Linked DNA regions of Homo sapiens. The protein of the gene in region 6 purifies or fractionates together with the protein of the main gene of each other region. This does not show direct contact. Each region holds a gene or a part of one and is shown on either strand. Other genes may lie near its edges. The genes, in order: CPNE1, TUBA8, TRMT1, CTNNA1, SUCLG2, GARS1 and CCT8.

Evidence for each region.
Region 1: the proteins of GARS1 (region 6) and CPNE1 purify together in Homo sapiens (affinity purification with mass spectrometry, with the first as the bait; one large-scale study listed by BioGRID). This does not show direct contact.
Region 2: the proteins of GARS1 (region 6) and TUBA8 purify together in Homo sapiens (affinity purification with mass spectrometry, with the first as the bait; one large-scale study listed by BioGRID). This does not show direct contact.
Region 3: the proteins of GARS1 (region 6) and TRMT1 purify together in Homo sapiens (affinity purification with mass spectrometry, with the first as the bait; one large-scale study listed by BioGRID). This does not show direct contact.
Region 4: the proteins of GARS1 (region 6) and CTNNA1 purify together in Homo sapiens (co-immunoprecipitation; 2 studies listed by BioGRID and IntAct, with this or other methods). This does not show direct contact.
Region 5: the proteins of GARS1 (region 6) and SUCLG2 purify together in Homo sapiens (affinity purification with mass spectrometry; 2 studies listed by BioGRID). This does not show direct contact.
Region 7: the proteins of GARS1 (region 6) and CCT8 fractionate together in Homo sapiens (co-fractionation; one large-scale study listed by BioGRID). This does not show direct contact.

Annotation. Positions count from the first base shown.
Region 1 is NC_000020.11:35,654,901-35,658,400, reverse strand, and holds part of CPNE1 (copine-1), read left to right. Parts: intron 1-3,056; exon of another isoform or gene 3,057-3,078; coding exon of another isoform or gene 3,079-3,500. Other genes in the region: RBM12 (RNA-binding protein 12), read left to right, coding at 3,079-3,500.
Region 2 is NC_000022.11:18,127,809-18,130,020, reverse strand, and holds part of TUBA8 (tubulin alpha-8 chain), read right to left. Parts: intron 1-2,212.
Region 3 is NC_000019.10:13,106,741-13,110,240, forward strand, and holds part of TRMT1 (tRNA (guanine(26)-N(2))-dimethyltransferase), read right to left. Parts: coding exon 3,418-3,500; intron 3,262-3,417; coding exon 3,175-3,261; intron 3,099-3,174; coding exon 3,029-3,098; intron 2,945-3,028; coding exon 2,810-2,944; intron 2,727-2,809; coding exon 2,641-2,726; intron 1,120-2,640; coding exon 1,011-1,119; intron 911-1,010; coding exon 834-910; intron 1-833. UniProt on the Homo sapiens protein: Dimethylates a single guanine residue at position 26 of most nuclear- and mitochondrial-encoded tRNAs using S-adenosyl-L-methionine as donor of the methyl groups. tRNA guanine(26)-dimethylation is required for redox homeostasis and ensure proper cellular proliferation and oxidative stress survival.
Region 4 is NC_000005.10:138,777,425-138,780,924, reverse strand, and holds part of CTNNA1 (catenin alpha-1), read right to left. Parts: intron 1-3,500. UniProt on the Homo sapiens protein: Associates with the cytoplasmic domain of a variety of cadherins. The association of catenins to cadherins produces a complex which is linked to the actin filament network, and which seems to be of primary importance for cadherins cell-adhesion properties.
Region 5 is NC_000003.12:67,529,113-67,532,612, forward strand, and holds part of SUCLG2 (succinate--CoA ligase [GDP-forming] subunit beta, mitochondrial isoform 2 precursor), read right to left. Parts: intron 75-3,500; coding exon 1-74. UniProt on the Homo sapiens protein: GTP-specific succinyl-CoA synthetase functions in the citric acid cycle (TCA), coupling the hydrolysis of succinyl-CoA to the synthesis of GTP and thus represents the only step of substrate-level phosphorylation in the TCA.
Region 6 is NC_000007.14:30,615,378-30,618,877, reverse strand, and holds part of GARS1 (glycine--tRNA ligase isoform 1 precursor), read right to left. Parts: intron 2,983-3,500; coding exon 2,820-2,982; intron 1,765-2,819; coding exon 1,600-1,764; intron 1-1,599. UniProt on the Homo sapiens protein: Catalyzes the ATP-dependent ligation of glycine to the 3'-end of its cognate tRNA, via the formation of an aminoacyl-adenylate intermediate (Gly-AMP).
Region 7 is NC_000021.9:29,056,649-29,060,148, forward strand, and holds part of CCT8 (T-complex protein 1 subunit theta), read right to left. Parts: intron 1-3,500. UniProt on the Homo sapiens protein: Component of the chaperonin-containing T-complex (TRiC), a molecular chaperone complex that assists the folding of actin, tubulin and other proteins upon ATP hydrolysis.

The DNA.
Region 1 (3,500 bases), on a different chromosome or scaffold from region 6:
AATTTCATTTATATGGATCTATTTATCTTGTGATTTTCCTGATAGGCAGTAAGTTTTATTCCTTAGTAGCATTTTAGACTAATTACAAATACAGATGCTTGTTATTGATATGTTTATTTATATTTCCTAAGAGTTTAAGTATAGATAATGGGTCACATGTTTTAGAGTACAAATTTTAGACTTTAAATGGAACCTTAGCAAGTGGAATCTAACCCTCTTGTTTAAGTAACTAAGATAGGCCCAAGTTAGGTTGAAATGACTTAGCTGTCAAACAGTTACTTAGTAACAGAAAAGCAGATACTTTTTTAAATTTTTTTTTAAATTTTTATTTGTTTTATTTATTTATTTCTTTTTGAGACAGAGTTTCGCTCTTGTTGCCCAGGCTGGAGTGCAGTGGCGTGATCTCTGCCTCCCGGGTTCAAGTGATTCTTCTGCCTCAGCCTCCCTAGTAGCTGGGATTACAGGCACCTGCCACCATGCCCAGCTAATTTTTTGTGTTTTTAGTAGAGACGGGGTTTCACCTTGTTGGCCAGGCTGGTCTTGAACTCCTGACCTCGGGTGATCCACCCACCTCATCCTCCCAAAGTGCTGGGGTTACAGGTGTGAGCCACCGCACCTGGCTGCGGATATTATTTCATATTTTTTGGAAGCTAGAAACAATTTTTCTCATCAGATGGCTTTATGAATAAATCTTGTATTCCACTTTGGTTTAATATTCAGCCCTTTCCAGCTGGTAATCTGAGGCAGATTTTCAATAGCATATTCTCATGTGTACCTTGTACAAACTTTCAGTAAATCCCTGCTCTTAACAGAAAATGGCTTGAAGACTTAACTGTGTATGTCACTTTAGCCCTGTGTTTAATTTTTGTGTTCTTGGGACTATATCAAGTTTCTGTTTGATTGTCCCAGTGCAAACTAGTCTCTCTCTCTCTCTCAAGTTGTTTTGAGTACCTGGATTGCCCATGATGTTTCCCCTATACAAAGTGATTAACCGTTTTTTGAAGTTGAACAGGAAATGCTATCACATTTTGCATACAGCCACATATTCTAGATTGAGCAAGGAATGTGAATTTGATTTAATGACTTGGAAACTGCTTGATGAACCTCCTTATAGGCTGCTAAATAGTAAATGAGAAAAGAGACTGTTGGTGTGATGTTTTTTAGCGTTAATTTTTCTTGTTGACTCTTGAAGTTTGTAAATGAAAAGCTTCCCCACACTTCCCAAATTTCTAGTGCTTTATAATGGCCTCACAAAAAGCATTTTCTGTTTGCTAGTCCATTTTTCTGGATTAAATTTGAAGGTGGCTTTTTATTTTTGTGTATGTGTCTGTGAGAAAACTGTCAAAGCCAAGCAGTTTGTTTCTTGTTTGTATACGGCAGTTGTAATATTGAGATATAATTACAGATTTTGTTGCATTAGTATTTATATAATATTTGACAATGAAGTTACAGAATTCTTAGAGCTTATAGTAGAAAATCTTGCCCCTTCTAATATTCTTGAGAAGTGATAAAACCAAATCTCTTCATTAATTTATAACCTTTCTGAGGGTCATGAGCTGATTTTATGGGCTTATATTTAAAAGTTGACTTTTCAGGTGGGGCGCAGTGGCTCACGCCTGTAATCCCAGCACTTTGGAAGACTGAGGAGGGTGGATCACCTGAGGTCAGGTGAAATCCCATCTCTCCTAAATACAAACACTTAGCCAGGCATGGTGGCGCATGCCTGTAATCCCAGCTACTTGGGAGGCTGAGGCAGGAGAATTACTTGAACCTGGGAGGTGGAGGTTGCCGTGAACCGAGATCGTGCCGTTGCACTGCAGCCTGGGCTACAAGAGTGAAACTCTGTCTCAAAATAAATAAATAAATAAAAGTTGACTTTTCAGATGGGTTGGAAAACACCCTATGTTATTGACCACCTTAATTTCAAAGTAGTATGTTTCCCAGGCCCAATAATTCGGTTTGTGTCACTTTCCAAAGGGCTGCCCTTGAATTTGCTCTTAGAAGCCTTTGGAACTGAAATACTGAAATTTGAGGGGAACATTTCTTTTTTGATTATGTCAAAACAGGCATGATCTAAGGAGATCACAGAGATCCTGTAGGAGTTGTGTAGGTCCAAGACTGTAACAACCACTGAGTAATTCACACTCTGGTTCTAAAACAAAAACAAAAAATATTTTTATTGTCAGCCCTCTCCTAGGGGAAAATAATACTTTAAAAAATTTTATTAAATAGAGGATTTGGTTATGAGTCATTGGACCTGAGTTTTAATTAAAATAGTCACAGTGAATGGGACTATAACCAGGTTCTACTTTTGGGGGTAATGAATCAAGGTAACTCAGATTTTAGCTGTCCTATTCAGTAGTTCTTTTGGCTTCTTAGTATGTCTTAACCTTGTTTATAATAAATAATTCCATATGTAGTTTTTTGTAATGTACAAGGCAGATTGAAAAGTTTTAGGATGAATAAAATAATGGAACCAGTTCTCATTTAAGACTTGAATCTACTTTTAGTCTTAAGTATTATTTACAATTCATTAGTATTCTAGTTTTTTGCTTCTGTTGGATGGATTTTGAGACTGAGCTCTATAAAATCACACTCTTGATAATTCTATGAAATTATCAAGTATATAGGGAAGATGCTAAGCCAGTTTTAAATACTAACTTCTATATATTCTTTGCATGTTTTTTCCCTATAGATTGTTAAACTTTGTTTCCTGATTTGACTTAGACATTTCTTTTAAATCTTACTGAATGATTAGTGGTCTGAATGATGTATATGTATTTTACTGTCCTACAGTTGTTTTTTCTTGAACTTTTTGAGTCTTGGGACTGAACTGTTTCCAAAATTAATGCCTTCTGGAAGTTGAAATTGTCTACGTTTTACATTGTAAATGGCACGTAATGTTCAGTTTTTAGAATATCTAAATTAAAGACATTGCCTGTGATAGCTTGAGGGAATATTTGAGGGCCTAATATGGTAGCTGGTCATTCTTGTAGCTAAAAACTTGGTGTGATAAACAGGAGTCTGACCTGGCCGTTGCCTTTTCTCATCTGCAGGTGTGTGTGGTTTCAGCGCAGCATGGCTGTGGTCATCCGTTTGCAAGGTCTCCCAATTGTGGCGGGGACCATGGACATTCGCCACTTCTTCTCTGGATTGACCATTCCTGATGGGGGCGTGCATATTGTAGGGGGTGAACTGGGTGAGGCTTTCATCGTTTTTGCCACTGATGAAGATGCAAGGCTTGGTATGATGCGCACAGGTGGTACAATTAAAGGGTCAAAAGTAACACTATTGTTGAGTAGTAAGACGGAAATGCAGAATATGATTGAACTGAGTCGTAGGCGTTTTGAAACTGCCAACTTAGATATACCACCAGCAAATGCCAGTAGATCAGGACCACCACCTAGCTCAGGAATGAGTAGCAGGGTAAACTTGCCCACAACAGTATCCAACTTTAATAATCCATCACCCAGTGTAGTTACTGCCACCACTTCTGTTCA
Region 2 (2,212 bases), on a different chromosome or scaffold from region 6:
TCCAAGAAGGTTGTTGAAGGTCTTGCCAAGTTCTGGCAGCATGGCAGGTCTCCCAGGCTCAGCCCAGACCCGTCTTACAGTGGTGCTGCTATCCTGGAAATCTCTCTTCTTCCCAACACACGTCCCAAACCAAAGCCAACCCCAGGAACCATGGGAAACTGGGACAAGTCTAATGTGGCAAACCGTGACATTACTTATGAGAACTATAGTGATGTCCTCAGCCACCTCTCCCACTGAGACCACCACATTTTAATCGCCAGTCTCTTAAATCCATAGCTTTAAAATGCACATCCTCCTGAGGGGCTGGTGTGGGAATGGCAGCCAGCTGTGTGGCAACATGGGTAGCCAGGCAGCCACTGGACCCACAGCAGCCGTCATTCCTCTTAGGCACAGGTGGCATCTTGGAGGTGGAGGTGATACTGGGAGAGGGGCAAAGTGGGGAAGGGAAAGGCAATGTATATGAATTTGGCCACATCACATACATTGCTAGAACTGAGCCGACTGCCATAAACCTTGTGCCTGGGCCAACCTGTTCTCCTCTAAGTGCTAACATCTCTTGACCTGAGTCAAGTGGGGACAAGTACTGTTGGAGAGAATGCAAGAAGATGAAGTTTAGCAGCATCCTCTCCAGGGAACATACTTTTCTTAGCTTATGCTAATGCTACCATAATGATCCTTCAGGACATAACTCCAGAGCTTCTGCTTTAAGGAGAGAGAATGAGGGGACATTTCCGCTTTGTTAATTTCCCCATCACCCACCATGTCTCTCATTCATTCTCTTTTTTCCCCATTCATTCTCCTACTAGCTGGTTGTTTGTTTCCATTTGAAAAAGAAAAAAGAATTTCATTTTTTGGAAGACCTTGACTGGTTTTGCCAGGATGATTAGAACTGTCACATAAAAAATAGGCATAGTCTTGGGGGGAAATTATATATGTAGCTAGAAGGATAGCAGTGAAAAGGAATGCTACACTCCTCACTCAGCAGAACAGCCAGGTCAAAGCCTCAGACCCATGCAGGGCAGCTATGAGGCCAGCACGCAGCTGGTGCCTCACACTTGTAACTCCCGCCAAGAAAACTGAGGCATGCTCATCTCTTCACCTCCAGCAACTGAGACAAACCCTGACACACAATAGGTACCAGTAAAACCTCTGAATGATTGAAAGCATGACTAGGGGCCAGGCTTGGTGGCTCACGCCTGTAATCCCAATGCTTTGAGAGGCTGAGGCAGGTGGATCACCTGAGGTCAGGAGTTCGAGACCAGCCTGGCCAACATGGTGAAACCCCATCTCTACTAAAAATACAAAAATTAGCCAGGCGTGGTGGTGCATGCCTGTAATCCCAGCTACCTGGGAGGCTAAGGCAGGAGAATCACTTGAACCCGGGAGGCAAAGTTTGCAGTGAGCCAAGATTGCACCACTGCACTCCAGCCCGGGCAACAGAGCAAGACTCCATCTCAGGGGAAAAATACAATAAAAAATAAAAAAAGAAATCCTGACTACAGGGCAGTAGTTAATGTGAATGTGGTAGCTGTTATGATGGCAGAATCTGACAAAAGACCATGGGTGGAGTGGCTGAGCTGTTCATGTGCACAGCCAGGCTGCTTGCCTGCCGGTCCAGCTCAGAGGGGTGACTTCTACCATTCAGCATTCCTGGTCCTGGGGCCCCAGGGTCTACCCTCGCTATTTTGTATCTCCCCACTGACTCTCTGAGCCTGGCATTTTCCAGACTGCGGGCACTTGGTTACCACCAGCCACACGGCTTGCTGGTTTTTGCTTACTCCTGGTTAATGGCAATGGAAAATAGCAATCATAGAACAACTATAAAAGTATCTTATTACTCCAAATTGATTAAGATGTGCAGGATAGATATTTTAAGTTTTCAAAATAAATTGGGAGAACACAGCTTTTTGTTAGAGAGAGGCATCATACTCCTCTGGCAACTGGAATAATTTGGTTAACTCTAAAATTAAAATGGCCACAAAATCATGCTGTACAAAGAAGTGTAAAATATCCATTAAAACTAACTTTAGGTTGGAGGCCAGGCGCGGTGGCTCCTGCCTGTAATCCCAGCCGAGACGGGCAGATCACAAGGTTAGGAGATCAAGACCATCCTGGCTAACACGGTGAAACCCCGTCTCTACTAAAAATACAAAAAATTAGCCGGGTGTGGTAGCAGGCGCCTGTAGTCCCAGTTACTCGGGAGGCTGAGGCA
Region 3 (3,500 bases), on a different chromosome or scaffold from region 6:
CCTCCCAAAGTGCTGGGATTACAGGTGTGAGCCACTACGCCCAGCCCAGTCAGCAGATTTAGTTATTTTTATTTTTATTTATTTATTTATTTATTTATTTGAGACGGAGTCTTACTCTGTCACCCAGGCTGGAGTGCAGTGGCGCTATCTCGGCTCACTGCAAGCTCTGCCCCCCGGGGTTCACGCCATTCTCCTGTCTCAGCCTCCCGAGTAGCTGGGACTACAGGCACCTGCCACCACGCCCGGCTAATTTTTTTTTTTTTTTTTTTGTATTTTTAGTAGAGACAGGGTTTCACTGTGTTAGCCAGGATGGTCTCAATCTCCTGATCTCGTGATCCGCCTGCCTCGGCCTCCCAAAGTGCTGGGACTACAGGCATGAGCCACCGCACCCAGCTATTTTTTTATTCTTTTTGAGATGGAGTCTCGCTCTGTCGCCCAGGCTGGAGTGCAATGGCGCGATCTAGACTCACCGCAACCTCTGCCTCCCAGGTTCAAGCGATTCTCCTGTCTCAGCCTCCTGAGTAGCTGGGATTACAGGCACCCACCACCACACCATGCCCAGCTAATTTTTGTATTTTTAGTAGAGATGGGGTTCCACCATGTTGGCCAGGCTGGTCTTGAACTCCTGACCTCAGGTGATCCACCTGCCTCAGCCTCCCAAAGTGCTGGGATTACAGGCGTGAGCCACCTACCCAGCCCCAGTCAGCAGATTTTGAATCTCACTTGAAGAATGGGCACGAGTCTGTGTGGGGCAGCATCTGTGTTGTCTGCACACACATGTGCTTCCATGTCTGTGGGCAGCCCTGGCCGCTCCTGCATGTGCTTGCCCCTACCTGGGCTCCACACTGAGAATGCGGAACGCTGGGCTAGTCTCTGATAGTCGCTCCCGTTTCACCGGACATTCCTTCTCCTGGGGGCAGAGGTCAGAGGTTAGGGAATACTAGGCCCAAGGGACCTCCAGGTGACCACCACCTGCCCTCCCACCTGCATGAGGTCAGCCCTGCCCTCACCCAGCAACGCATGATGTCCCAGAGGGCAGAGGCAGGGGCATCCGTCTTCACAGCGTTCTTACAGGCGTGGGAGAGTGAGACCCGGAAGTCAGCGTGGAGGAGGGCCGACCTGGGGAACAGCAGGGATTATGAGGGAGATGCCGGACTCCTTGACCCCAAAGCCCAAGCTGACCAGCGTAGGTAAGACTACCTTCGGCAAGGGCTCATGGCTACAGAGTTCATTTCTTTTCTTTTCTTTTTTTTTTTTTTTTTTTTTTTGAGATGGAGTCTCGCTCTGTCGCTCAGGCTGGAGTGCAATGGCGCAATCTTGGCTCACCACAGCCTCCGCCTCCTGGGTTTAAGCGATTCTCCTGCCTCAGCCTCCCGAATAGCTGGGACTATAGGCATGTGCCACCACGCCCAGCTAATTTTTGTATTTTTAGTAGAGACAGGGTTTCACCATGTTGGCCAGGATGGTCTCGATCTCTTAACCTTGTGATCCGCCCGCCTCAGCCTCCCAAAGTGCTGGGATTACAGGAGTGAGCCACCGTGCCTGGCCTTCTTATTTATTATTTTTTTGAGGTGGAGTCTCACTCTGTCGCTCAGGCTGGTGTGCAATGATGCAATCTTGGCTCACTGCAGCCTCTGCCTCTCAGGTTCAACCAATTCTCCTGTCTCAGCCTCCTGAGTAGCTGAGATTACAGGGATGTGCCATGACGCCTGGCTAATATTTTGGTATTTTTAGTAGAGATGGGGTTTCGCCACGTTGACCGGGCTGGTCTCGAACTCCTGGCCTCAAGTGATTCGCCCGCCTCAGCCTCCCAAAGTGCTGGGATTACAGGCATGAGCCACCACACCTGGCCTTTTTCTTTTTCTAATTATTATTATTATATTTTAAATGGAGTCTCGCTCTGTTGCCCAGGTTGATGTGCAGTGGCGCAATCTTGGCTCACCACCGCCTCCTCCTCCTCCCAGGTTCCAGTGATTCTCGTGCCTCAGCCTCCCAAGTAGCTGGGACTACAGGCATGTGCCACCACACCCAGCTAATTTTTGTATTTTTAGTAGAGACAGGGTTTAACCATTTTGACCACGCTGGTCTTGAACTCCTGACCTCAAGTGATCTGCCCACCTCAGCCTCCCAAAGTGCTGGGAATATAGGCATGAGCCAATAAGCCTGGCCTAATTTTTTTTTTTTTTTTTTTTTTTTAAAGAGACAGGGTCTCATTTTGTCACCCAGGCTGGAGTGGCATGATCATAGCTCACTTTAGCATCAAACTCCTGGCCCAAATGATCCTCCCACCTCAGCCTCCTGAGTAGTTAGGACTATAGGCATGTATCACCATGCCAGGCTAATGGGTGTGTGTGTGTGTGTGTGTGTGTATACATACGTATGTATGTGTGTGTATATGTATGTGTGTGTACATATATATTTATTTATTTATTTGTTAGAGATAGGGTCTTACTACGTTGCCCAGGTTGGCCTCAAGTGATCTTCCTGCCTCAGCCTCCCAAGGTACTGGGATTACAGGAATGAGACAGTGCACCGGGTTCTCCCCACCCCCTCGCAAGTTCTATGCATGAGAATCCCTGGACTTGCCCCAGGCCACCCTGTGGTCTGGGACAGGCTCCTCCCGACCCCAGGGGCTCTTACCGCAACTGCAGGAGGCTTGGTGTGTTGCAGTGGATGGTGCTGCTCAGCTGGTCCAGGGTGTAGTACAGAGGCACGTCCGGGAGCTCCTGCGATGGGGGACAGGATGGGCATGAGTGGAGATGGACGGGCACAGGTGGAGCCCCCTTCCCCGTCACAGCCCGGCTCTCACCTCAGTGATGACGCTCAGGACCCCTCGGATCCGCTCCGAGGTGTGGAAGCGGCCGGGGTTAGCGCTCACAGCCTCCAGGACACGGCCCACAAAATCCAGGTCATGGATGGGCTCTGCCCACATGGGGCCACCAAGCTGGGGGCGCACCGGGGACAGGTGAGCAGGGACTATGACCTTCAAGACCCTCTTGCTCCTTTGCCTCCCCTGGCCTAGCCCTACCTGGTGTCGTTGCCCACAGTGTTCACACTCGGGGGTCACAGGGGGACCACAGGCTGCAGAGAACTTGGCCCTAAACAGAGAGGGGTGGTTGGTGGGGAGGGAGGAAAACCCTGGGACTCCCCTTCTTCTCCTTCCTCCCTGCTCACCGGCCGCTGGGGACTCCTGACGCTTTGCCGAGACGCTGAAGGTGGAAGGCCCCGCAGCCCACACACTGGAACACCAGCGCCTGCTTGCTGTGGGGGGTACCAGTGGCCACGAGTTCCCAGCGTGACCACGACACCCCAACTCCTCCCTTAGACTGGCTCTGTCCCTTAAGAAGCCCCAGATCCCCCAGGGCAAGGTCCTGTCTCCTCTCTCAATCCACCACCGCTCTCTGCCCCCGGGCTGACCTGGCTGAGGCCTTGACCTTGGCCTGGCCGGTGAAGACACGGACAAAAACACGCACGTAGAAGTCAGCGCTGATGCTGAGCAG
Region 4 (3,500 bases), on a different chromosome or scaffold from region 6:
TGCCTTCAATTATTAAAGAAAAAAAGAAAAGAAAAGGCATGAAGCTGAGGTAAACACTAATATAAACTTTCTAGACAACAAACTGCTGGTAGACATTTAAAAGCTTAAAGGCTGGGCGTGGTGGCTCACTCCTGTAATCCCAGCACTTTGGGAAGCCAAGGCGGGCAGATCACCTGAGGTCGGGAGTTCGACACCAGCCTGACCAACAAGGATAAACCCTGTCTCTACTAAAAATACAAAATTAGCCAGGCTGGTGGTGCACGCCTGTAATCCCAGCTACTCGGGAGGCTGAGGCAGAAGAATCGCTTGAACCCGGGAGGCAGAGGCTGCAGTGAGCCGAGATTGTGCCATTGCACTCCAGCCTGGGCAACAAGAAAAAAACTCCATCTTAAAAAATAATAATAATAATAAAAATTAAAAAAATAAAATCTTGGCCAGGCGCAGTGGCTCACGCCTGTAATCCCAGCACTTTGGGAGGCTGAGGCGGGCAGATCATGAGGTCAGGAGATTGAGACCATCCTGCCTAACACGGTGAAACCCAGTCTCTACTAAAAATACAAAAAAAAAATTAGCCAGGCGCAGTGGCGGGCACCTGTAGTCCCAGCTACTCGGGAGGCTGAGGCAGGAAAATGGCGTGAACCCCAGAGACGGAGCTTGCAGTAGCAGAGATAGCGCCACTGCAGTCCGGCCTGGGCGAAAGAGCAAGACTCCGTCTCAAAAAAATAAAAAATAAAATAAATAAATAAAATAAAATCTTTAAAAAGTACATTTGTATGACCCAGAAAATCTACTGCTAAAATCTTATTCTAAAGTTAAGGAACATGTAAAAACTGGGATACAATGATGTTCACAACACTGCTTTATATAAACATTAAAAGTTATAAATTACCTAAATTTCAAACAACAGATCACTCAATAAATTATGTAACAATGACACAACGGGCTACAATGTTACTCTTAAAAACAATGTTGGCAAATTAAAAAACAAAACAACCAGCCTGGCCAACATAGTGAAACCCCGTCTCTATTAAAACTACAAAAATTAGTCCAGTGTGGTGGTACACGCCCGTAATCCCAGCTGCTCAGGAGGCTGAGGCAGGAAAACCACTTGAACCTGGGAGGTGGAGGTTGCAGTGAGCCAAGATCGCACCACTGCACTCCAGCCTGGGCAACAGAGCAAGCTCTTGTCTCAAAAAAAAAACAAAAACAAAAAAAAACCAGTGTTATCAGTGCCCAAGTATTTATTTCTATTAAATACCATTTGCATGGTGGTTCATGCCTGTGATACCAGCACTTTGGAAGGCCAAGGCAGGAGGATCACTTAAGCCCAGGAGTTTGAGACCAGCCTGGGCCACACAGAGAGATCCCATTTCTACTTATTTTTTTTTTAAAAAACGGACCATTTCCCATTAATAGAAACCAAAGTTCCAGGTCTGAAGCACTGTATTGTGCGGAAAGGGGACAAGACTAACAAGATCATATCAAAAGACACAGGAAGCAAGGGCTCCCATCAGCCAAATTTAGGACAACTATCAAAGAGAATAATGACTGTAACTGTCTGTAACTAAATAATTAAATAAATATCCTTAAGACCATAGGGATCCTCAAAAGAAAGGGTATGGGGAGGGAATTTCTTTACCATGAATCTAGAATAGAATTAGAAAATGACCATCTTGCAACCCCCACTGGTAAAAACTGATCCAGCCAAGGATTAGCAATGAATGTCAAAACTACTGGGTGAAAACTGGCCAGGCATGGTGGTTCATGCTTGTAATTCCAGCACTTAGGGAGGCCAAAGTGGGTGGATCACCTGAGGTCAGGAGTTCGAGACCAGCCTGGCCAATGTGGTGAAACCCTCTCTCTACTAAAAATACAAAAATTAGCCAGGCGTAGTGGCGGTTGCTTGTGATCGCAGCTACTCATGAGGCTGAGCCAGGAGAATCGCTGGAACCTGGGAGGCAGAGGTTGCAATGAGCCGAGATCATGCCACTGCACTCCAGCCTAGGCAACAGAGCAAGATTCCATCTCAAAAAAAAAACGTAACTTTGAACTAGATCCCTCATAAAAGACTACCAACCACTGCCTTCTTCAGAGAGCTTTAGTGGAGATTAGATAGAACAAAGTATGATCCATTGACTAATGCATGAGTCCATGCTAATATGAATAAAGAAGGAAAAGTTCTTCCAAACAATAGGAAACAAACTAATAAATGTAGAAAGAACAATGTATTTAGAAAAATCAGCATTCAGGAACCATAATATTAATTGCCTCAGGCAAGAATCAAAGAATGCTAACCAAGTAGATTAGCATTCAGTTTCTCAGTAGCGTGATCTAGTGTCATAGTAACTCCCAACAGATTATTTATTTATGACAGATGGGGGAAATAGTAACTTCACAGTCCAGAAACCTGAGATGCCACCTTAACCAAGTAATCAAAATTACTGTCCCTAATAAGGACACAAACCCACATCACGTATCTCCTAACACGATGCACTGAGAAGGATACAACATCACCTCTGTGTTATTTCGCCTGAAAATTACATAACCTCAACTAGTCATGAGGCAACATCAAATTCAAAGCGTGAGACGATCTACAAAATAACTGGCTGTAGTCTTGAAAAATGTCAAAGCAGCCGGGCGCGGAGGCTCACGTCTGTAATCCCAGCACTTTGGGAGGCCAAGGCGGGTGGATCACGAGTTCAGGAGATCGAAACCATCCTGGTCAACACTGTGAAACCCCGTCTCTACTAAAAATACCAAAAAATTAGCCGGGCGTGGTGGCGGTCGCCTGTAGTCCCAGCTACTCGGGAGGCTGAGGCAGGAGAATGGCATGAACCTGGGGGAGCAGAACTTGCAGTGAGTGGAGATGGTGCCACTGCACTCCTGCCTGGGCCACAGAGCAAGACTCTGTTTAAAAAAAAAAAAAAAAAAAAAAAGACAGATTAAGAAACATTTCCCCTCCCCCTCTCCCTCCTCCCCCTCTCCCTCCTCCCCCTCTCCCTCCTCCCCCTCTCCCTCCTCTCCCTCTCCCTCCTCTCCCTCTCCCTCTCCCCACGGTCTCCCTCTCCCTCTCTTTCCACGGTCTCCCACTGATGCCGAGCTGAAGCTGGACTGTACTGCTGCCATCTCAGCTCGCTGCAGCCTCCCTGCCTGATTCTCCTGCCTCAGCCTGCCGAGTGCCTGTGATTGCAGGCGCGCACCGCCATGCCTGACTGGTTTTTGTATTTTTTTGGTGGAGACGGGGTTTCACTGTGTTAGCCGGGCTGGTCTCCAGCTCCTAACCGCGAGTGATCCGCCAGCCTCGGCCTCCAGAGGTGCCGGGATTGCAGACGGAGTCTGGTTCACTCAGTGCTCAATGGTGCCCAGGCTGGAGTGCAGTGGCGTGATCTCGGCTCGCTACAACCTCCACCTCCCAGCCGCCTGCCTTGGCCTCCCAAAGTGCCGAGATTGCAGCCTCTGCCCGGCCGCCACCCCGTCTGGGAAGTGAGGAGCGTCTCTGC
Region 5 (3,500 bases), on a different chromosome or scaffold from region 6:
CAAACCACTATTGAAGACACCTTTTCCTCTTCCTCCAGCTAAGATCTGGGCTTTTAAAACAATTTCTTTTGCATCTGAAAAAGAAAAATCCAGAGTTGGTAGCTGATTTTAAATTCTTTTTTTGTTTTTTAAGCAATAAGGAAAGCAATAATGGCACATAACTTCCAAGTAACTGGTAAAAGCTCTCTCAAACTAACTTTGAAAATAAATGCAATGAAGAACTTCAAAAAAACATCTATGAGCCTAAATACAAAGCTTGTTTACTGAGGATATTCAAATGCTTCCTACCAGTTTAATCATCTAATACTTGACCTTCCCAAGGGAAAGCAAGACATGTGTTCCCTTGCTCTTTTGAGTGTGTCAGAAGAAGCTAAATAAATCCTGGAAGGAGGTATTAATTTTACTGTGTAATGGCACTCCCATGTGGCAGAGGCACCAGTTGGCCAGTAAGAGGAGCTAACCATCAGAGATGTCAAAGGGAAGACTGGATTATGCGGGGGAAGGTTTAAAGACAAGACACAAAGGTCATAGTTAATAACTGCATTATTGGAAACCAACAGTTTTCTGAGCAGTTGTTCTATATACTGATAGGGTTGGGAAAGGGAGGAGGAAATGGATTAAAACTAAAAGCAAGCAATATTTTAAAATCATTGGCAAGGTAACAAAATATCCTGGGGGAAAGTGGTTGTGGAATCTTTGTTTCTCATCACACTCCACGAATGAAAGAACTCTCTAATCTTGACTTTTTAGACGAGAGTTATTAACACAAATATCTTCCCTTGCAGGGAAGTTGGGTGCATGAAGTAGCCCAGTGACAAATGGGGCCTTTAGCAAACAGGGTAGCTCCCCTCCCCAACCACCAAAACAAAACAAAACAACAACAAACAAAAAACTGCCTCCAAATCAAATATGTTTAATAAACCAAATAGCACACAACTGCAGACCACAGCTGATATCCTCTGTTTGTGAGTCATCTTTATTTAAAATCACAGAACCCAGCTGATCCCCTATAAGGCCATGAGAGTATTCTGGTTCAGTATACCAGATTTAGAATCTGCAAACCCAGGTTTCAATCTGGCCTTCATCCCTCACCCAGCTGTGTGACATTAGGCAAGTTACTTAATGTCTCTGAAACTCGGTTTATTCAACTGTGAAATGATGACAAGGGTTGTTTTAAAAATTAAATGAACACACATGAATGCTTTATCCCAGAGCCTGAAAACTTGTGATTAATTAAAAACTATTGCCTCGACCAGTTAGTTCATTTATTACCTTTGTATATTGTAAAGAATGAAAGGAATCATTACAGAGATGGCTAAACCAAAAAACTAACAAGCGCTCCATTAAGTTTGGTTATTTCAGCTATTACTGTCACTGTCATCATCATTGTTACCCACAGGCAAGCAGGTAAAGGTTCAAACGGAAAGAGCTGTGGAAGGTTTTATCATCAAGGCAATGGGGAGCTACAGAAGTATTTTACAGAAGGCATTCAGCCAGCTGATGTCACACCATTGAGGCTCCTTCACTGCCTTCATTGGTTAGTCTTCTTGTCTCCTATATTTGCTTACACTCAGAAAGCTGAAGCCCACCTTCTTCTCAGAAGCAAACACAGTTTTTTCTTAGAAGGCTGTCCTGTGTACCCTCTGGCAATAATTTCTGCCCTGGATACGAACCATCACAACATTGGTCAAGCCCTGTCTTATAATAAACTGGTTTCCATCAAGCTGAGTAGAAGACAAATTAATTGTCAGAAACTCACAAGGAAAGCAACCAAGTAAAATGAATACATTGCATATTTAGCTTACTGCAAGAACAGTAGTAAGAGCAAGGATATTGGAGTTAAACAGACCTGGTTAAAATCTCCAACTCTACCTATCACTTTCTTTGTAGAGAAGAAACAACTGAGATTCAGAAAGGTAAAAGTAGCATGCCCTTCTGTAAAGTAGTCATATTAAAGAAGTCTACAGTGTAAGGATGATGTGAAGAATAAATGAAATACAGTAAAGTGCCTGGCACATTTTTTTAAAGTCAAAATATGATAGCTATCAACATTATAATAATTTTCAGCAATTAAGAAAAAATGGCACACAGGAAGACATTTCCTGTTTTTCTTTGGAAGACATCAAGTGGAAAAAATACTTTTTGCTGTCTACTCAAATTTTTAATTGTGATCACTTCAAATTCTTTACATAACTGGCATTCCATTGCCATTATCATTTTTCATATCCTTGTCATCCTGAAGAGATGCTTTCCTCTCTGAGCTTTCCAGCAGCAAAACTTGAAAGCCAGAGAGAATACCTAATTGGGCATTGTTAATTGGCACTACATAGGCTTGATTAGATCAGCTTTAGTCACTAACCATCAAGACACAGAAAGAGTTGTATCCTCAATGAAGTGTTGTCAATTAAACGTGTCGCCATTTGACCTCCAGTCAAAGTATTCCATGCAAAACAGTGTTGGTAGAACAAGCAACCAGTTCAGAGACTATGAAACCAGAGATCAGGACAAATAGAAAAAGACAACAACCTACGCACATCTGCAACATACACCCCAGGCCAAAAATGAGTTCACTAAAATCATCTCTTCTGATTACATCTCAAGTGCTAAATCAATATAGTAAGTCAGCAAGTCAGCAGCCCAAAGTAAAGCAAGTTTTTCTCATCTTGAGAAAAACTCTCATGAAGTAATTTAATTCAAGGCTTATTTACTCAAGGTGCTGAAAATTAAGATGACAAATCCCACTCAACAGTAACTCGTCTCTTCATTCAGTATTTACCAAATTGATTCACATGTACTAAATGTCACTGTTTCTATTTATTTAAAGATCTGATCTCTCCCAAAACTCAAATTTCTGTTTTTATTTAACATTGCCTCTTGCCCCAATCCTGAACGGTATTAGAAAAGAAAAAAAAATCCCATATATGAAATGCAATTTTTGTCTGAATAAGACGACTTAACCATCCTTTAGAAAAACAAGCTAAAAGGACAGAGGAAAAAATTAACTCTAATATGAGTTGGGGTTTTATTTTTGTTTTTTGTTTTAGACAGAGTCTCACTTTGTCACCCAGGCTGGAGTGCAGTGGTGTGATCTTGGCCCACTGCAACCTCTGCCTCCCGGGTTCAAGCGGTTCTCCTGCCTCAGCCTTCTGAGTAGCTGGGGTTACAGGCACATGCCACCATGCCCAGCTAATTTTTTGTATTTTTAGCAGAGATGAGGTTTCCCATGTTGCTCCAGCTGGTCTCAAACTCCTGAGCTCAGGCAATCTGCCCACCTCAGCCTCCCAAAGTGCTAGGATTACAGGCATAAAATAGATTTTATATAGAAGTAGACAACAACCTAGACATTGATAATTATATTATTGGACTCTGAGTTGGTATAACTTGGGTCTGGATAACTCCAAAGTCTTTGCTCTTAATTGCTATTTTTATACGCAGTAGCCTAAGTATGCAACGTCTTCACTAAATTTTGTTCCTTTCTTAGTGAGTTTCTGAAAATAACC
Region 6 (3,500 bases):
TCATTTTGACATATGTCAAGCAAGCTTGCTAAGAAAATCCTAACAGATTACAGTAATTCTTTCTAATTCCACAAGGGAAAAAGAATATATTAAAAACAACATCATTAATAGCCATTTATAAACATATGCATATTATTATGCATTTATGCATGCATGTGTTAGAACACGTAGAAAAATCATCTAGAGAAGGCAGACATACCCAAGACCATGGAGCTAAGCATGATCTTTTTTCGTCTGTTTGTTTGAGACAGGGCCTCACTCTGTCACCCAGGCTTGAGTTCAGTGGTGCAATCATGGCTCACTACAGCCTCAACCTCCCGGGCTCATGTGATCTTCCCACCTCAGCCTCCCAAGTAGCTGAAACTACAGGGGCGTGCTATCACACCTGGCTAATTTTTGTATTTTTTGTAGAGACAGGGTCTTGCTATGTTGCCCAGGCTGGTCTCAAATTTCTGAGCTCAAGCAATCTTCCCACCTCGGCCTCCCAAAGTGCTAGGATTACAAGCATGAGCCACCACACCCAGCCAGTTTGGACATTTTTTAAAAGCTGTTTTTTACAAGCTGTAAAAAACAACAAAGTTATGTGACAGAGACTCATAAAGCTAAAAATATTTACCATCTGGTCCTTTATAGAAAATGTTTGCTCAATACAGAGAAGAGACATAAAACACCTGGGGAGAGGCATATAACTGGAAGTTTAATTTTCTACATAATAGTCTTCAGAATTATTTTTTCCTTTTTGTTTTAAAAAAAGTAGTCATTACTTTTTAAAATATGACTAATTTTGATTTTTAATTTTTAAAAATCCATAAAAAGAAAGCCATTCTGAAAAGTAAAAACTGAACCAAGGGTATACTGGAACCAGTGACCCCTGGACTAAAGTCTCTTTCTATGTAGGCGAGGAAGCCTCTCTAACACCCAATAAGAGAAATGCCAAAAGACTCTCAGCCTTGTTTTAGATGCCACATTTCCTCCTGCCACCAATATAGACAGCATCTCCTATATGCAAATGCCTTTCGTCCCTCCGCTTCAATACTGATGTTCATGTTTGGTGGTGGAGGCTGGAGGGGTGACAGGGCACAGGGGCAGGAGGGTACCTGGAGATCGTCTGTGAATTTTGAGTTAAATACATAACATTTGAGGAAGGTAGTTCTTAAGCCAGAGATCAGAATCAACTAGTATATTCCCCAAAGCTACTACATAGCTCATTGAGCTAAGAGCACTATGACTTTCTTTATTCAACCTCTCCACCATTTCCAATGTTTGCTGGGACTCTTGCCAGGAAGGAGAGGCCAATGTGTCTTAGATCCACTCCAGGATATTGCCAGTAATGCTGCCAATACACTGTACAGCAGTGTACACATCCGCACTGTCCCATCATACACTAACTCTGTCTCTCAGCTATCTAAGACTACAACGAGCTCCTTAGGACACTTATAAAAAGGCAGGAGGCAACTGCTTTTTCTGTTTTGCTCAGGAAAAGATCTCTTTTCTTTTCCCTTTGTTCCTCTGTGACATAAAGTGCACAAAAATTCATTTGGTACCTGTGCTTCTAAGTTAACAATGTGAAAATCACATGGTAAACAGCACTCCACTTACGTAGGATGTTTTGGATTCTGCATCCCAACAGTCACAGGCATAATGGGCCATCTCATTCTCCATGTGCTGCCGGAAGCGGAGTTTATCTGGAGATATTCCAACCTTCGTGAGGTAGAGGTAGATGCGGCCAATGAAATAGCCTAATACTGTGTTATTAATCACACCCTAAACCAACCAATAAGCAAGCATGGAGGAAGAAAAGAAAACACACATTAATACTCTTCAAAGCCAAGATATCGGTTTCCATTGACTCACTCTACTGAAAAATATTTGACACCCAACACAAACTATTTTATCTTGCTTTCAAAACAATTTCAAATACTCAGAATGAGATCTTGGTTATTTTTTAATGGGTTAATGTCAAGATGATGATAATGGAGTTATTCAAAATCTGTCCAACATACTTACTGGGTCAGCAAAAATTCAGCCCAGTACCTCATACCTCTAAATCTACAGTACTAAAAACAATATTCATAATTGACACTAAAGAATGGCAAAGACATTCCCCTCTGAATTAACCAAAGTAATGACACGTTGAGGGGATTTTAATGTATCCTTACCCACTGAAATTTGTGAACCCCGTAGAGTACACGTAATCATTTTAGTGTTTGCAAGGACCTTAGAAAACATCTAGCCCCATCTCCATACACTGCAGAGGTCTTCTCTGCAAAGTGGCTGACAAGCTATCGTCCAACCTTGCCAGGAGTATTTTCAGGGCCAGGAAGCTCACTGCTCCCTGAGGCAACTCATTCCACTAGTGGACAGCAGCTACTGTTGGCAAGTTTTCACGCACTCACTTCTCCAGGCAAATATTTACAAAGTGCTTATATGCAAGGCCTTATTCCACTGCTATGGGTAATACAGAAGAGTCTGAAACCCAGATGGCTTGCTTTCTGTGGGTCCAATGCTGTCTCCCCCAAAGTAGTACATACTGTTGAGTCAGATTGGTGAGGCACAATGCAAACCAAGATCTATTTTCCAAGTGCTCTGCTAAACATTTTTTTTCATGCTAGCCCCAAGGCCCACAAATTGAGATGTTCAGGTGATTTTTCTCTTACTATAATAATACTGTATAACAAATTCTGTACAAAACCAAGTACTGTAAAAAAGCAAATGACTGCCAAAATAAAATATCTTGTCACCCAGAACACATAGAATTTGCTAATTGCTGCAAACCCTGAACAGGCACAATCTAAGTTAAGTTACCTCCAGAATCCTACCTGTTCAACAGCATCTCCCAGGCGCATTTTCCGAGCGGACTGTCCGCTGACCTGGGCTTTTGCTGAATACAAATAAAGGTGAAGGTCTGCCACATTCTGGAACTTGGGGTGGTCTTTCTCACTGGGATCTACAAAGTGCTCAATTTCTGCCATTGTGAATTCTCTGAAAGCAAAAACGTAAGCGATAAACCTGCATATTTAACTACAAAAAACAAACAAACAAAAAACAAGGCCTCTATTTTCAACTGCATTCTAGTGATAAAGGCTCCATACTATAGTGGTCTTTTTCACTAAACAGAAAGTTGGTTTCCTAAGGGAATGGCCAAAAAAATTTTGAATTAAATTTGTCTGGGTAGTTGTTATTTTTATTTTTTTGATGTATTATATTTGTACAAATTTATGGGGTACATGTGAAGGTTATTTTTAAACACATTAATGAAAATTTTATTACTCACTATTTAAAATAAACATGATCTAACTTCTCTGAAGTATTAATTCCTTCCCTCCAGCTACATCCAAAAAGATTATTACTTTTAACTGAAAATAACTTGTTAAAGGCAGATTAATATAGTTTTTTAAATTAGGAAAACATACGCAAAAATCACATGAAAAATAAGAAATAAGATATTGAATAGTGACATGCAGATAAAATGGTTTTCCTTAAAGCATTAGCAAGTCTTT
Region 7 (3,500 bases), on a different chromosome or scaffold from region 6:
TCTTGGTATAATTATGTACTGCATATAAAACACTACAGCACAGAGTTTGCTAGCTCCCTTGTTAGAAATTCAATTGTAAACTTTCAGCGCATGAGAAAGTTTACTGCTTTTATGGATAACCGCAATAAAATCCACAGAGATTAGTGAACATTCCAAGACATGCACTTCAATAACTCAAAAAGCTGAAAGTGAAAATATGTGCATGCATCACTGGTGTAAGTCGGTCAGTTTGGCACCTGATTTGCTATTTATATATGAGATGTGTCTTGCCAACCATCTCTGTCCCAATTTCCTTGTGGTTTAGGAGCTTTAGGCCCACCTGCCAGCTTTGCCATTATAATCTAAAGTAGTTGATACATAAGTATATACAAAGTTTAACACTGAAATTTTCTAAAACCTGTAAATGAGAATCATTCAAGCAGCCAGGAATTTTCATAAACAAAAATCTAAGTTCCCAACTTAAAAAAAAAAGCGCCACAAACCTCACCTTACTTTATCTAAAATAAATAGGTTTTAGCTTTTTTTTTTTTTTTCTTTTTGAGACGGAGTCTTGCTCTGTTGCCCAGGCTAGAGAGTGCAGTGGCGCGATCTTGGCTCAATGCAACCTCTGCCTCCTGGGTTCAAGCAATTCTCCTGCCTCAGCCTCCTGAGTAACTGGGATTACAGGTGCCCATCACCATGCCCGGCTAAGTTTTTACTTTTAGTAGAGACGGGGTTTCACCACGTTGGCCAGGCTGGTCTCAAACTCCTGCATGATCCACCCGCCTCAGCCTCCCAAAGTGTTGGGATTATAGGTGTGAGCCACTGCGCTCGGCTGGAAAACATCTTAATTACCATCTGCAAACCTGAACTGGGCAGTGGCTCATGCCTGTAATCCTAGCACTTTGGGAGGCCAAGGTTTGAGGCCAGGAGTTTGAGACCAGCCTGGGCAACAAAGTGAGACCTAGTCTACAAAAACTAAAAATATATATATATATAAAATATATATATAACATTTGATAATATATATATGATATATGTATCATATATACGATACATATATCATACATATATCATATATAATATATATCATACATATATGTATGATATATATATCATGTATATGTATGATATGAGATATATATGATATATATGAGATATGTATGATATATACATATGTATGATATATACATATGATATGTGTGATATATACATATCAGATATATATGATATATATCTCAGCCAACCATGACAGCACCTGCCTACAGTCCCAGCTATTCGGGATGTTAAGGCAGAAGAATCACTGGAACTCAGGATTTTGAGGCTGTGGTGAGCTGATTATGATTGTGCCACTGTCCTCCAGCCTGGGTGATAGAGTAAGACCTTATCACAACAACAACAAAAAAGATACCTAAACCTGAAATTCTCAGAATAACATGTTACCAATTGAGAGTAATTTCAGACTGAATTAAAGGCATTAAGCATAATTTTAGAACCTAAGTGCACATTGATTTTAAAAAGTAACTAAAAGCTGGGTGTGGTGGCTCATGCCTGTAATCCCAGCACTTTGGGAGGCCAAGGCGGACAGATCACGAGGTCAAGAGATCGAGACCATCCTGGCCAACATGGTGAAACCCCGTCTCTACTAAAAATACAAAAAAAAATTAGGTGGGCATGGTGGCATGCGCCTGTAGTCCCAGCTACTCGGGAGGCTGATGCAGCAGAATTGCTTGAACCTGGGAGGTGGCGGTTGCAGTAAGCTGAGATCACACCACTGCACTCCAGCCTGGTGACAGAGCAAGACTCCATCTCAAAGAAAAAAAAGAAACAAACACTAAAACAAGTAGTTCCCAAACTTTAGTGGGCACCATAATCAAAAGTGCTCATTAAAACAGACTGCTAGGCCTCTTCCAGCATTTCTGATATTGGTGGGTCTGGAGTGACATCTGAGAATCTGTATTTCTTCTTTTTTTTTTTTTTTTGAGATGGAGTCTTGCTCTGTCGCCCAGGCTGGAGTACAGTGGTGCCATCTCTACTCACTGCAGGCTCCACCTCCCAGGTTCATGCCATGCTCCTGCCTCAGCCTCCCGAGTAGCTGGGACTACAGGCATCTGCCACCACGCCCAGCTAATTTTTTGTTTTTTTTAGTAGAGACGGGATTTCACCATGTTAGCCAGGATGGTCTCAACCTCCTGACCTCGTGATCCTCCTGCCTTGGCCTCCCAAAGTGCTGGGATTACAGGCGTGAGCCACCGCGCCTGGCCTCCAAGAATCTGTATTTCTTATTTATTTTTAGTTTTTTAAAAGATGGAGTGTCACTCTGTCAACCAGGCTGGAGTGCCATGATGTGATCACAGCTCACTGCAGCCTTCAACTCCTGGGCTCAAGTGATCCTCCCACCTCAGCCTCCTGCGTAGCTGGGACTACAGGTGTGAGCCACCATACCTGGCTGAGAACTGTCATTCTAACAAGTTCTCAGGTGATGTTGATACTATTTTGGGACCATACTTTGAGAACTAGTGAAATAGACATTCCAACAAAGATTAATCCAGTCCGTACTACACTATCCAATGCTTAAAGCTTGATGTGCAATTCCTTTTCTAGAATATATACTATACAAATTTAGGTTCATTATACTATACACTATATACACAAACTGGTTAATACAGTTGGATGGGTTCTTTAGATACATACTTCACATAGAGTGCAAAGACTGGGGGAACAGATCAACCAACAACTTCCCCTACCATAAGATAAAGCAGACTTCCTAGTTTAAAGCCAAAATTCAAACTGCCTTTGTGACCAAGGGTGGTGGTTATTGTCTTGCTTGAATAATTGACATTCAAAGTTCCTAACACAGTTGGAATTTCTGCGTTCCTTATGCTGCAGTCTACTTAGCTTCTTCCGTCCCTGCTATTTTTGGTTTCCCCTTTTATTCTTAGCCACATTCTAATTTCTAGAATAAGTATTTTCTTAGGTTTCTATTTAAGAACTCAAACATATTCTTCCATTGAAAATCACCTAATAAGCTGACAGAGAAACCCGTTAATCTGGTACATAAACATCTAGTTTCTGCTTATTTTCAATGACTTGAAACTAAATATCCAGTTCCATTTTTGGTCATCTCTTGCTATCATAGTTCTTCCAATAAATTTGTTATAATTACCACCAACTGGTCCTTACTGTACTTAAAAGCTGAAATGTCTTTCCACTGATTTCTACTTAGGACTTACTCCACCTTTAATATGACATATGACTTTTACCTAATGGATGTATACTGTCCCTCTAGCAAATTAAAATTTTCTATTAAGTACTTATAAATAGTCATTGCTTATTAATTACTTCTAGAATTTTGTGGGGAAATGTATTTAATTAAGTTTGCCAGAAAATACCTTTTGGAAAAATAATTATGATTTCAGGTTTACTTCTATATATAGAACAGTCTACCACAATTCTTCAAAAAAAAAAAAAAAAGGGTAGAAATATGATTTTAAACACCTTTAACATCTTTTAGTATCTCA